Linked DNA regions of Homo sapiens. The protein of the gene in region 3 purifies or fractionates together with the protein of the main gene of each other region. This does not show direct contact. Each region holds a gene or a part of one and is shown on either strand. Other genes may lie near its edges.

What was found.
Region 1: the proteins of ANKRD39 (region 3) and FBXO10 purify together in Homo sapiens (affinity purification with mass spectrometry; one large-scale study listed by BioGRID and IntAct). This does not show direct contact.
Region 2: the proteins of ANKRD39 (region 3) and GLDC purify together in Homo sapiens (affinity purification with mass spectrometry; one large-scale study listed by BioGRID and IntAct). This does not show direct contact.
Region 4: the proteins of ANKRD39 (region 3) and TBCE purify together in Homo sapiens (affinity purification with mass spectrometry; one large-scale study listed by BioGRID and IntAct). This does not show direct contact.

The regions. Positions count from the first base shown.
Region 1 is NC_000009.12:37,566,371-37,569,901, reverse strand, and holds part of FBXO10 (F-box only protein 10), read left to right. Parts: intron 1-3,531. UniProt on the Homo sapiens protein: Substrate-recognition component of the SCF (SKP1-CUL1-F-box protein)-type E3 ubiquitin ligase complex. Mediates the ubiquitination and degradation of BCL2, an antiapoptotic protein, thereby playing a role in apoptosis by controlling the stability of BCL2.
Region 2 is NC_000009.12:6,586,720-6,590,250, forward strand, and holds part of GLDC (glycine dehydrogenase (decarboxylating), mitochondrial precursor), read right to left. Parts: intron 2,574-3,531; coding exon 2,476-2,573; intron 1,984-2,475; coding exon 1,899-1,983; intron 1,724-1,898; coding exon 1,682-1,723; intron 565-1,681; coding exon 422-564; intron 1-421. UniProt on the Homo sapiens protein: The glycine cleavage system catalyzes the degradation of glycine.
Region 3 is NC_000002.12:96,851,510-96,855,040, forward strand, and holds part of ANKRD39 (ankyrin repeat domain-containing protein 39), read right to left. Parts: intron 2,933-3,531; coding exon 2,829-2,932; intron 2,096-2,828; coding exon 1,892-2,095; intron 1-1,891.
Region 4 is NC_000001.11:235,370,406-235,373,936, reverse strand, and holds part of TBCE (tubulin-specific chaperone E), read right to left. Parts: intron 1-3,531. UniProt on the Homo sapiens protein: Tubulin-folding protein; involved in the second step of the tubulin folding pathway and in the regulation of tubulin heterodimer dissociation.

The sequences.
Region 1 (3,531 bases), on a different chromosome or scaffold from region 3:
TTATTTATGACTAATTATGACTGTGGTCAGTGAGCTTGTTCTGTTTTTGGTTGGTTGGTTTGTTTGTTTTTGAGACAGTCTCACTGTCTCCCACATTGGAGTACAGTGGTGTGATCATAGCTAACTGCAGCCTTGAACTCCTGGCTCAAGCAATCCTCCTGCTTCAGTCTCCCCAGGTAGCTGGAAGGACTACAGGTGTGAGCCACTGTGCTCGAAGCTGTATAATTTTAATCCTTTGAAATTTCTTGATACTTCTGTTAGAGCTCTGTTTATGGTCAGTTTTTATAAATGTTCCATGTGTGTTTGAAAGTAAAATGTATTCTACAGTTATTGGATTCAATGTCCAATGAAATGCCATTAGATCAAGTTTGTTAATGGTGTTCAAATCTTCTTTATCCTTACTGGGTGTTTTTTTTTTTCCTATGAATTATAGAGGGATGTGTTTAAATATCCAAGTATAATTATGAATTTGTCTACTTCATCTTTTAATTTTTTTTTTTTTTTTTGCTTTATATCTGTAAGGCCGTATTATCAGGTGCATATACAAATATAAAGTTGTTTTATCTTCTTAATTCTTAATTCTTAATTCACTTTTTATCATTATGAAGCTGCCTTTTTTGTTTCTAATAATTTTTTTTTTTGCCTTATACTTTACCTGATAGTGTAATCTTTTTAAAAATCTACACAAGGTATTTTTTTTCCATTAGTTGCATCTTTTCTGTAACTGTGTTTTAGGTAAGTCTCTTATGAATAGCATATAATTGGGTTTTGGTTTTTTAAACCCTGGGAAAACTTATAAGGAAGTTTTAAAGTCAGGGAAAACCCTGACTTTCTCTGTCTTTTAATTAGAACATTTAGTCCATTTTCATTAATAGCACCACTGATGTATTTTTGTTTAGGTCTGCCTTATTTTATGCTCTCAATCTGTTTGTCCTGACAGTTCTCCATTTCATTACAGCTGTCTTCCCTTCTTTGGAGCTATTTTTCATCATTCACCTTTTTTTTCTACTAATGTGGATGTTATACACTTTTTCTTAATGGTTATGCTTGAAATTTCAATTTGACCAAAGTTGATAGATTTCCGTTATAAGTGGTGAATATCCTTGCTCTTTTGGACAGACAGTACAGCGACCTTAGACCACATGAACTCCGACCTTAGACCACATGAACTCTGACCTTAGACCACATGAACTCCGACCTTAGACCACGTGAACTCCGACCTTAGACCACATGAACTCCGTTTATCCTTTTTCCACCTTAGGGTAGAGGAGATGTAAATACAATGTATCAACTTTGATTGGAGTCTTACTAGCCTACAGAGAGAAAAAGGAAGAGAGTAAATAATTTACCTGAGAAAACAAAGTAAATTGGTTTCTTGAAAACAAAGTAAATTGGGTGGGTGGGGATGTGTGCCAGTGGCTCACACCTGTAATCCCAGCACTTTAGGAGGCTGAGGTGGGCGGTTTGCCTGAGGTCAGGAGTTCGAGACCAGCCTGGCCAGCACGGTGAAACCCCATCTCTACTAAAAATACAAAAATTAGTCAGGCGTGGTGGCAGGCGGCTGTAATCCCAGCTACCCGAGAAGCTGAGGCAGGAGAATCACTTGAATCCAGGAGGTGGCAGTTGCAGTGAGCCAAGATCGCGCCATTGTACTCCAGTTTGGGCAACAGAGCAAGACTCCATCTCAAAAATAATAATAATAATAATTTACTTGAGAAAACTGTCAGGATTTGTTTGCTTGTAGGTGATCAGCTTAAAGTATCTGAACTTGAAAAAGAACATCAGTTGGCTTTAAAAAGAAAATGTTACTGTGTCCCTGGCCCTTTGATCTCTTGCAGTCTCTCACCTTAATTGTCTGAGTTTGGCTTCATTCCTCATATGGACTCTTTTGAGTTGCCCCATTCCTTGCAAGAGGATGGGGGATTCTTACTGTCTTCTTTGGGTCAAGTATCCATCCTGTGAGGTAGAGGACTGCAACACTCTCAGTGGCAGCCCCAGCAGGACTAAATAGAGTAGAAGCGGGGTTCCCCTGAGGACGCAGAAGAGGGAAGGTGCTGGGCAGACATAGCTAAGGTCAGGTGCAGTGGCTCATGCCTGGAATCCCAGCACTTTGGGAGGCCGAGGCGGACAGATCACCTGAGGTCAGGAGTTCAAGACCAGCCTGGCCAACATGGTGAAACCCCATCTCTACTAAAAATGCAAAAATTAGCCAGGCATGGTGCCTCCTAGTTCCTTTCTTGGAGTACTGGGGTTCCTAACTTGTGAAGTGATGATATAGGAACTTCTAGCCCCACCATCACATATATATAAACTCACAGATCATGAAATAAGAATGAATTTGATCCTGCAATTGTTATGCACTAAAATATTACCACACAATAAATGTTTACTCATAGGAATTGAGGATAAGCATACTACGTTTTGGTTGTTATAAGTGCTCATTAAGACGATATGTAAGGCTGGGCATGGTGGCTCACGCCTATAATCCCAGCACTTTGGGAGGCTGAGGCAGGAGGATCGCTTGAGCCCAGGACTTTGAGACTAGCCTGGGCAACATAGTGAGACCTCATCTCTAAAAAAAAAAAAAAAAATTTAGCTGGGTGTGGTAGCGTGTGCCCATAGTCCCAGCTACTCAGGAGGCTGAGGCTGGAAGATCACTTGAGCCCAGGAGATTGAGGCTGTAGTGAGCCAAGATCACATCACTGCACTCCAATCTGGGTGACAAAGCAAGACCTTGTCTCAAAAAAAAAAAAGAAAAAAAGAAAAAAAAAAGACATGTAAAAAGCACCTGGCATTTAGTAAGCCCTCAAAACACCCTTGCCTGCCCCTTCAAGGACATGCAATAAATTTATGTGAGAATCAGTACTAAAACCTGGATCTGGGGACCCCCCTGCAACTCCCCTTCTGTCTCCTAAGTAAACCAAAATGAACAGGCAGTGCATTGAAAGGAGAGAGGGTCCTTATGGCTCCAAGCCCACTCAGAAAGCACCATCAGAACACAGCTTTCTGGTTTATGTCATCAAATTTCAAAGCTGAAAATAAGAAACAGATGGTTATTTCTCACGCTGAAGAGAGCTACGGTTTGAAGAAATGATGAAAAGCCCAGCTGAAGTTTTTCTCATCTTCAAATTTAAGTTTTGTCTCATTTCCGATGGTGTGTGTAGGTGTGTGTACAGGGCTCTTTGGGGTTATAATATTTTACTATTACTTTAGAACAGTTTACTCCACAAAGCTAGGGACATTTACTTTGATTTGAAGAAAGATTTTAAATCATTAATCCATTACAGTTGCTCAGTTAATACAGTTTGTAGTTATTTACGCTGTGCCTGTGAGGCTTGTGTGCCTCATAATGTTGGAAGAGAAATTTTTTCTTTTCCTGTCAATACTAAATAGGGTTCTGAGCAGCCCTTGATTTTTTTTTCCACTTTTTTTTTTTTTTTTTCCGAGACAGAGTCTCACTTTGTTGTCCAAGCTGCAGTGCAGTGGTGTGATCTCAGCTCACTGCAACCTCCACCTCCCAGGTTCAAGCGA
Region 2 (3,531 bases), on a different chromosome or scaffold from region 3:
GGCTCGCCTCGTGACTTGCTTTAATAGATAGACTAATCTGGAAGGGATGCAGTGTAACTTAGGAGGTTCGGCCATTAGAGATTTGCAGCTTCTCCATGCTTCATCTGGGAACACGCATTCTGAACCCCGACATTGTGCTGTAAGGAACAAGGAAGCTCAAGGAACTACAAGGAAAGCCCCATATGGAGAAAAACTATGGCCCTAGTGAACATCCTCAAATGCACTCCCAGCCCACAGCTCCTCACCAGCTATGTGAGGGAGAACACGATGCACCTTCTAGCCATGCTCTCCCCAGTGGAGTGGAACTGTCTAGCAAGTCACAGAATAACACAAAAAAGTTGTTGTTCTAAGCCTTTAAGTTTTGTGGTGTATGCTATACAAGAATAGATTGCTGAAACAATAAGAAAAGAAATGCCCTTACCTGTTTGGCTGGAAACAGACCTGGTCATAACCTGTGAGTTCACACAAATCCTTCTCAAGCTCTCGGAAAAGCTGCTGATATCCTTGAGCTTGATCCAGAGGCACAAAGGGGTGGATGTTTGCAAATTCTTTCCATGTGATAGGCTGAAAAGAAAGAAAACAAAAATGCATATATACATATTATAATAGCAATAGCAATAATAACTTTAATAATAATGACGATGATGAGAAAAGCTATGTGCCAGGCACTGTTCTAAGCGCTATACATATGTTAATTTATTTAAGTTCCACCACAACCTTATAAGGTAAGTACCGTTACTGTCTTCATTTAAAAGTGGGACATAGTTGTCCAAAAAGGGAACTTACACAAAAATACAATGTTTTGCTAACTTTTCAGGGAAGAAAAGCCCCCAAAACAGATTTCTTTCCATGAAACACAATGAGTTGCTTCAGGTATGGTTGGCATAAACTCTTATATAGCAATAGATTGTTCTCTTTCTTCACTAAGTGGAACAAGAAACAAACACAAAAGTAAATGGGAAGGCCAGGTACAGTGGTTCACACCTATAATTCCAGAACTCTGGGAGGCTGAGGTGGGAGGACTGCTTGAGGCCAGGAGTCTGAGATCAGACTGGCAAACACAGCAAGACCTTGACTCTATTTTTTAAAAAAATAGAGAGGGAAATATTCTTATCATGATATAAAATGATTTCTTTCGTCTGATATGATATGTCACTTCAGAATAAACGTAAGAAATGAAAGAAAGAAAAAAAAAGCTTCGCTAAAATGGATCCTGGCCTAGTAGAGATACTTGCCAACCACAACAGCGAGTTGCACAAATCTTCTGTTGACTTGAATCCCTATCTTTCTGATACAGGAATGATTTCTAGAAAGACGGCTTAAGGTTCGTAATTCTACCTGAGATTTAGAACTATAAACAATTTTTTTTAAAAAAGCTTTTAATATGACAGGTTTAAAAGGGGGTGGGGGTGGGGGAGGGATAGGATAGAAAGGCATAAATACCATATACATTTAATTAATTTTATTAAAAAATAATAAGTTTACCCATACATTTAAATGATGAAGTCGTGAGAAATACAGGGTTACTCCCAAGATTGGTGAATAGCAAGGTAAAGAATTATTAAAATAGTTCTTCAATCACAGAATCACAGTCCCAGTAGATTTCACTAGTTCTGGGCTTAGGTGGAAGCTAGAACACTGCCCCTTGCTGAGTATCCACTTACAGAAGTGAGCTACTTACTGCGAGTTCAGACGAACTGTTCAGTTTCATGGTGCAGGATCCCTTTAAGAAGAACATCCAAAATGTATCACATTAGTGATTTTCTATAGTCCATCAATCAACCCTCCATTCTCCCAGCATGGCCACCCCTTTGTTGCTCTTGGAGCATATTAGGTAGGACCAAGAGACGTGGGATTGGGGTAGCTTGGAAATGAGAAAAAAGGCCACAAATAACTACCAGTGGAATCATGCTGTGAACAAGGGAAATGTCTTTATTTTCCAGTTTCTTCATGTACCGGACAATGTTTGTTTCAGAGTGGTAGCTGTGAACACAAAACACAGAATTAGGGGCCCCAAAAGTAGATATGAGTCCATGCACATCCTCCTGACATATAAGACACACCGAAATCTACTTTCAAAATGCAGATCAATTTTGGCCACGGACAATATGTCAACTACACTCAGAGAGAAGGGCACAGACCCCCACAAACCTCAGAGGATGTCTTGGACAAGAAGCTGACTGTGGGTATGAGTTGAAGGTTGGGAAGAAGAGGATATAGGGCTCTTGGGAGTGAACTTCAGCCTGGCAATTATTCATCCCTGCTTCCTGACTGCCAAGGGAGCAGAGCCACCAGGAAACAAAGTGTGCTTTTCCCAAGTCAGGAACGGGATCGTTATGAGGATGAAATACTTGGGAGCCACGGCTGAGCCAGAATAACCAGGCCACAGCAGGCGAAATCAGCAGCAGCACTCTGCCTAACTCCCTAGCTGATTACCAAAGCACAAAACGCAGAAGTCACACAAGACACACAAACCTGTTGAACACTTGATGGGTGAGGAACGGGCTGGTCCTCTTGAACACAGACCCTGGAATACCTCTGCACTCCTCTCCCATGCTTTCAGCAACCAGTTCCTGAAGGAGAAACACAGAGATGATAGGGCCAGAACTGTGCCTGGAGCCACATGTGGACATCCAGGCTTCTGGGTGGCTGGGCCACAAAGCACTCAAAATGGATCAAATATATAATTTTACTTATTTATTTATTTATTTATTTATTTAATATTTTTGGAGGCAGGGTCTTTCTCTAGCACCCAGGCTAGAGTGCAGTGGCACGATCTCAACTCACTGTAGCCTTGGCCCTACTGGGCTCAATCCTCCTACCTCAGTCTCCTGAGTAGCTGGGGCTACAGGTGCATGCCACCACACCTGGCTGATTTTTGTATTTTTCTAGAGACGATGTTTCACCATGCCGCCCAGGCTGGTCACAAACTCCTGGGCTCAAGCAATCTGCCTGCCTTGGCTTCCCAAAGTGCTGGGATTACAGTCATGGGCCACTGAGCCTGGCCAAAGATGTAAATTTAAAAGCTAAAACTACTAAAACTTAGAAGAAAATAGGCCAGGCGCGGTGGCTCACACCTGTAATCCCAGCACTTTGGGAGGCCGAGGTGGGTGGATCACAAGGTCAGGAGATCGAGGCCATCCTGGCTCACATGGTGAAACCCCGTCTCTACTAAAAAATACAAAATTAGCCGGTCGTGTTGGCGGGTGCCTGTAGTCGCAGCTACTCGGGAGGCTGAGGCAGGAGAATGGCGTGAACCTGGGAGGTGGAGTTTGCAGTGAGCTGAGATCATGCCACTGCACGCCACCCTGGGCGACAGAGCAAGACTCCATCTTAAAAAAAAAAAAGAAAATATAGGGGCTAATCTGCATAACCTTGGATCTGGCAATGGTTTCTTAAATGTGACACCAAAGGAATAAACAATAAACATATATAAAAATTAGATAAATTAAATTTCTATAAAATTTGAAATGTGTGTGCATCAAAGAACATTATCAAGAAAGTTAAGAGACTGACTACCCACAGAATGGA
Region 3 (3,531 bases):
CGAACTCCTGGACTCAAGCAATTAGCCTGCCTTGGCCTCCCAAAGGGCTGGGATTACAGGTGTGAGCCTTTGTGCCCAGCCAGGCTGCAACAATTTGAACAGGACAAAGCCCCAGCTGTCTCTACTGAGATACGCAGACCCCAAACAGGGAATTTCCAGGGGTACAGGAATTAGGAAAAGTTGAGTCCATGGCATACAGCTAGGCATACATCCAGGTGAGCTCACCATGTCTAGGGATCAGGAAAGGCTCTCGTGGGGTGTGATGTGTAAGCTGAGATCCAGAAGAAAGGGTAGAAACAAGCCACATAAAAAACGGGAGGGGAGAGGCACCCAGACAGGGGCTAACTTGTTAAATATGGCTCTGGGGGGACAGAGTAGTAGGTTCAAGAAAATTAAAATGGCTGGATGTGGTAGCTCATGCCTGTAATCCCAGCACTTTGGGAGGATTGCTTGGGCCCAGGTGTCGAGACGATAGTGAGAGACCCTGTCTCTACTACTACTACTAATAATTTTAAAAGCCTGGGCAATGTGGTGAAGCTGTTTTTAGAAAAATTAGCCAGGCATGGTGGCATGCACCTGTAGTCCCAGCTACTTGGGAGGCTGAGGTAGGAGCATTGCTTGAGCCCAGGAGGTCGAGGCTACAAGTGAGCTGTGATTGTGCAAGTGTACTCTAGCCTGGGTGAAAAAGTGAGACCCTGTCTCAAAAATAAAATAAAATAAAATAAATTAGCTGGTCATGGTGGTGCAGGCATGTATAGTCCCAGCTACTCAGGAGGCTGAGGTGGGAAGATCACTCAAGCCCAGGAAGTCGGGGCTGCAGTGAGTTATAATCATGCCACTGTACTCCAACCTGGGTGACAGAGTGAGACCCTGTCTCAAAAAAAAAAAAAAAAAAAAAGAGAAGAAAAAAGAAAAATTATTAGTAGGGCCTCTGAGTGTAAGAGACCAGGGGACAAGAGCTCAGGAGAAAACTGGAGGGGTGGGGAAAAAAGACAAAAAAGACAAAAAAAAAAAAAAAAAACCTGGAGAAGGGGGCAGGAGCAAACCCCAGGAAACCTTCACAATAACTCATGGACCTGGAAAAAGCAAGCCTCAAGGACTCCAAGTGGGGGCGTGGCATGATCAGAACTGCTTTAAACAATCGCTCCAGGAGAAAATCAAAGAAGGGGCAAGAGGGGACTAGATTTACACATGATTTACACACATATATGATTTATACACATATGCCACATATGCATAGACCGCCTCTCAAAGGTGCCTGCAAACTCAGTAAAGTGGCCGAGCAGGGTAGCTCACACCCGTAATCTCAGCACTTAGGGAGGCAGAGGCAGGAGGATCAATTGAGCCCAGGAGTTTGAGACCAGCCTGGGCAACACAGTGAGACCCCATTCCCCACAAAAAAGGAAAAGCAATCGGTAAAGTGAACACCTCAAAGGACGGGCCTAGAAGGCTGAGGGATGAGGAGCTGGGTGGGAGGGAAACTCGCTTTCATGGCATGCCCTTGTAGACTCTTCAGATTGTTTACCATGTGCAGGTATTTCCAGCTAGAAAGAGTTTAATTAAATGATCACTCCGGCTAACATATAGCAAGTGGACTACAGGAACAGGCAAGAGTATGTATAAGTTTCAGAAAACTATATGGAAAAGGCTTCATGACATGTCTCTAAGGGAAAGAAAACTAAAGTGCCACTGTACATTTTAATTTACACGCTCAGAAAAAAGGCTGGAGAATTACCCATTAGTCCTAAAGTGATGACAGGTGAGCAAGGGAATTACAAATGATTTTAACTGTCTTCTCTCTGATTTCCTGTTTTCCCCATGTTTTCTACATGAACATGTTATAACTTTAAAAATAAGGAAACGACATTTTTGGAAGGGGGAACGGGCCCACCTTATGCAGACTGGTCATGCCGTCGTCATCCACCACCCTGGGGTTGGACCCATGTGATAGCAGGAGCCGCGCGATTTCAGTGTGCCCGCAGTAGCTGGCTCGGTGCAGAGCAGTGGCACCCCCGTGGGTCTGGGCATCACACTTAGCTCCGCTTTCCAGCAGGAACTGGCACACAGCGTAGTGCCCATTGCGGCTGGCATAGTGCTGCAGGGAACAGAGACCGAGGTCAGATGGGAGAAGCCAGGCAGGTGACAAGGGTGGTATAGAGGTGAGAGCATGGCCTCCCTGCAGCGAGGGGCCTGGAATCATCTCAGGTGCCAACCCCAGCAGTCGTGTGACCTGGGCAAGCTTCTGCGTGACTAACCTGAGTTTGTTCAATTGAAAAATGGGGAAAATGATCATTCCTATCTCAAAGAATTGTTACGAAAATAAAACTAAATCATTGGCTGGGCGCAGTGGCTCATGCCTGTAATCCCAGCACTTTGGGAGGCCGAGGCAGGCGGATCACCTGAAGTCAGGAGTTCGAGACCAGCCTGGTCAACATGGTGAAAACCCATCTCTACTAAAAATACAAAAATTAGCTGGGTGTGGTGGCACATGCCTGTAGTCTCAGCTACTCAGGAGGCTGAGGCAGGAGAATCGCTTGAACCTGGGAGGCGGAGGTTGCAGTGAGCTGAGATCGCATCACTGCACTCCAGCCTGGGTAACAGAGCAAGACTTCATCTCAAAACAAAACAAAACCTAAATTATTGATGTAAAGGTCTCACACTAATTTAAAAAATCCAGGTTCATATGATGCTTAAAAAGAGAAATTTTGCTGGAAGAGAAGAAAGGGAGGGAGGAGGTAAAAGGTAACCATCAGTCCCCCTCCTCAGAGAGCAGGTGTCTCCTGAGTTAACGCTTCTGTCTCCTGACCCTGTGCTCCTCCCTAGCTCACCAGCGCAGTGTAGCCGGCCGAGTCGGGCTGACTTGGGTCCTCGGCCTTCTGGATTAAATGCTTCACTCGGCCCAGGTCTCCATTCAGGGCTGCCGACCAGATTCCTGCAGAAAGGCAACCAAAGGACTGAATGATGCTGAATGGGAGTTTCAGTGCTTGCTTTGCCTCTTGACCTCAGTTTTCTTGTCTATAAAGTGAAGAATATTCATTCCTTCAACAAATATCAACCGAGCACCTCCTCTGTGTCAAGGTTTGTTCTGAATGCTGGTGACTTAGCTGTGAACAAGACAGATGGGCACATCTCATCAGGACAGTAGGACTGGGCGGACACAGACATCTCCATCCCACTTCAAACACAGAAGTGCTGGATGAAGTAATGTTTAAAATGTTTGGATCTAGAGTGAAATTCAGGTCGGGCTGGGATTACAGGCGCCCACCACCATGCCCAGCAAATTTTTCTATTTTTAGTAGAGACAGGGTTTCACCATGTTGGTCAGGCTGGCCTTGAACTCCTGACCTCAAGTGATCCATTTGCCTTGGCCTCCCAAAGTGCTGGGATTACAGGCGTGAGCCACCGTGCCCAGCCAGAAACAACTTTTAAAAAATATAATGATGCCTCCAGAAGGCTGCCAAGGCAGTGTGACAATCTCCCACAGAAGAGGATCTCCCTGGTGAGCACAAAGACTGAAAGTTGCAAAACAAG
Region 4 (3,531 bases), on a different chromosome or scaffold from region 3:
TGGCTCACGTCTGTAATCCCAGCACTTTGGGAGGCCGAGGCGGGAGGATCACGAGGTCAGGAGATCGAGACCATCCTGGCTAACACGGTGAAACACCGTCTCTACTAAAAATACAAAAAAATTAGCCAGGCGTGGTGGCGGGCGCTTGTAGTCCCAGCTACTCGGGAGGCTGAGGCAGGAGAATGGCGTGAACCCGGGAGGCGGAGCTTGCAGTGAGCCGAGATCGCGCCACCGCACTTCAGCCTGGGCGACAGAGCGAGACTCCGTCTCAAAAATAAAATAAAATAAAATAAAAATAAAAATAAATAAAAATAAAAATACAAAAATTAGCCGGGCATGGTGGTGAGTGCCTGTAATCCCACCTACTTGGGAGACTGAGGCACAAGAATTGCTTGAACCCTGGAGGCGGAGGTTGCAGTGAGCCAAGATCGTGCCATTGCACTCCAGACTGGGCCACAGAGTGAGACTGCGTCTCAAAGAAAAAAAAAAATGTAGACGTTACATTCTTTTTTTTCTGTCCCTTTCATGGGAAAGACTGTTGCTTACTATTAAGGTTGCAATGAAAGAAATTCCAAAGCCATTTCTGATTTACTACCATCTTCCGATCATAAAATTTAAATGTTTAAATTTTACTACAATTGTATTACCCTAAAAATGAGTTTTTTACTAGTTTTAAGTGCCCTTTCAAAATTTTCATTAACATGTAAGCAGAATTTTACTACCACTGAGACATATAATTTGTTCTACTTCTTTTATTAACTTCCTTTAAAATAAAGTAGGGCCTCACTATGTTATCCAGGCTGGTCTTTAACTCCTGGGCTCAAGCAATCCTCCTGAGGATTCCCAAAGTGCTGGGATTACAGGTTTGAGCTACCTCAACTGGCCATATTAACATTTGTCCATAAACATTTTTCTATACAGCCACAGAGTCAACACATTAATCATCTCAATATCCAAGTATGATACCACAATTTACTTAATAATTTCTCTCTTTTTTTTTTTTTTTTTTTTTTTAGACGGAGTCTCACTCTGTCGCCCAGGCTGGAGTGCAGTGGTGCAATCTCAGCTCACTGCAAGCTCCGCCTCCCGGGTTCACGCCATTCTCCTGCCTCAGCCTCCCCAGTAGCTGGGACTACAGGCACCCACCACCACGCCCGGCTAATTTTTTGTATTTTTAGTAGAGACGTGGTTTCACCATGTTAGCCAGGATGGTCTCGATCTCCTGACCTCGAGATCCGCCCGCCTCGGCCTCCCAAAGTGCTGGAATTACAGACGTGAGCCACCGTGCCCAGCCTCTCTCTCTCTCTCTTTTCTATTGGTAGAGAAGGGATCTCTCTATGCTGCCCAGGTTGGTCTCAAACTGCTGGCCTCAAGAGATTCTCCCGTCTCAGCCTTCCAAAGTGCTAGGATTATAGGTGTGAACCACTGCACCCAGCCAATCATTTCTCTAATGCTGTTTATTTACAACTCCAAAGAAAACAGCTAAAAACAGCTTTGATTTTTAAAATATTACCTTATGAAGTATTTCCTTGGGAAAAATTCTTAAGATAGATAAATATGTTTAAGGTTCTACAAAGCCAGCCAGGAGCGGTGGCTCACGCCTGTAATCCCAACACTTTGGGAGGCCAAGGCAGGAGGATCATCTGAAGTCAGGAGTTCCAGAGCAGCCTTGCCACTATGGTGAAATCCCGTTGCAACTAAAAATACAAAAATTAGCCTGGCGAGGTGGAGTGCGTCTGTAATCCCAGCTAAATATGCACAGCAAAATTAAAAATTAAAATATAAAAATCAGCTGGGTGTGGTGGTGCACGCCTATAGGCCAATGTATTTGGGAGGCTTAGGTTGGAGGATGACCTGAGCCCAGGAGTTCGAGGCTGCAGTGAGCCCTGATCACACCACTGTACTCCAGCCTGGGCAACAGAGGGAGACCCTATTGTACAAAAAAATGAAAAAATGAAAAAAAGGGCAGGCACAGTGGCTCATGCCTGTAATCCCAGCACTTCGGGAGGCCAAGGCAGGCAGATCACCTGAGGTCAGGAGTTCGAGACCAGCCCGGCCAACATGGTGAAACCCCCACCTCTACTAAAAAAACAAAAATTAGCTGGGTATGCTGGCGGGTCCCTGTAATCCCAGCTACTTGGGAGGCTGAGGCAGGAGAATCACTTGAATCCGGGAAGTGGAGGTTGTAGTGAGCCGAGATCGTGCCATTGCACTCCAGCCTGGGTGACAAGAGCAAAACTCTGTCTCAGAAAAAAAGGTGGGGCCGGGTGCTGTAGCTCACGCCTGTAATCCTAACACTTTGGGAGGCAGAGGTGGGTGGATCAACTGAGGTTGGGAGTTTGAGACAAGCCTAACCAATATGATGAAACCCCATCTCTAATAAAAATACAAAAATTAGCCAGGCTATGGTGGCACACGCGTATAATCCCAGCTACTCAGAGGCTGAGGTGGGAGAATCACTTGAACCCGGGAGGTAGAGCTTGCAGTGAGCCAAGATCGTGTCAGTGCACTACAGCCTGGGTGACAGAGGGAGACCCTGTCTCAAAAAAAAAAAAAAAGGGAAAAAAAAAAAGACAAGAGTGGCCGGGGGCGGTGGCTCACGCCTGTAATCCCAGCAGTTTGAGAGGCTGAGGCAGGTGGATCATTTGAGGTCAGAAGTTCAAGACCAGCCTGACCAACATGGAGAAACCCCATCTCTACTAAAAATACAAAATTAGTCAGGTATGGTGGCGCATGCCTGTAATCCCAGCTACTGAGGAGGCTGAGGTGGCAGAATTGCTTGAAGCCAGGAGGCGGAGGTTGCGGTGAGCCAAGATCATGCAATTGCACTCTAGCCTGGGCAGCAAGAGCAACCACTCTGTCTCAAAAAAAAAAAAAAAAAAAAAAAAAAAAAAAAAAGCCAGGCGTGATAGCTCACACCTGTAATCCCAGCACTTTGGGAAGCTGAGGCGGGCGGATCATGAGGTCAGGAGTTCAAGACCAACCTGACCAACATGGTGAAACCCCATTTCTACTAAAAATACAAAAAAGAGCTGGGCGTGGTGGCGTGCGCCTGTAATCCCAGCTACTCAGGAGACTGAGGCAGGAGAATCGCTTGAACCCGGGAGGCGGAGGTTGCAGTGAGCCGACATCACACAATTGCACTCCAGCCTGAGCGACAGAGCAAGACTCCATCTCAAAAAAAAAAAAAAGAAAAGACAAGGAGGAAAAAAGCATAAAAATATGAAGTGTAGAAGATGGTGCAAAAACCCCAAATTCATTCAATCAACAATTATATTATGGAGTGTCTGCTAAAAGCCAGATACTATTTTAGGCAATTGGAATAAAACAGTAATGGATTTTACAGGGAAGTACAATAAGAGATCTTCCCAAAAAAAAAAAAAAAATGCCGGGTGCAGTGGCTCACGCCTGTAATCCCAGCACTTTGGGAGGCTGAGGCGGGTGAATCACAAGGTCAGCAGTTCAAGACCAACCTGGCCAAGATGGTGAAACCCCATCTCTACTAAAAATACAAAAATTAGCCAGGCATGG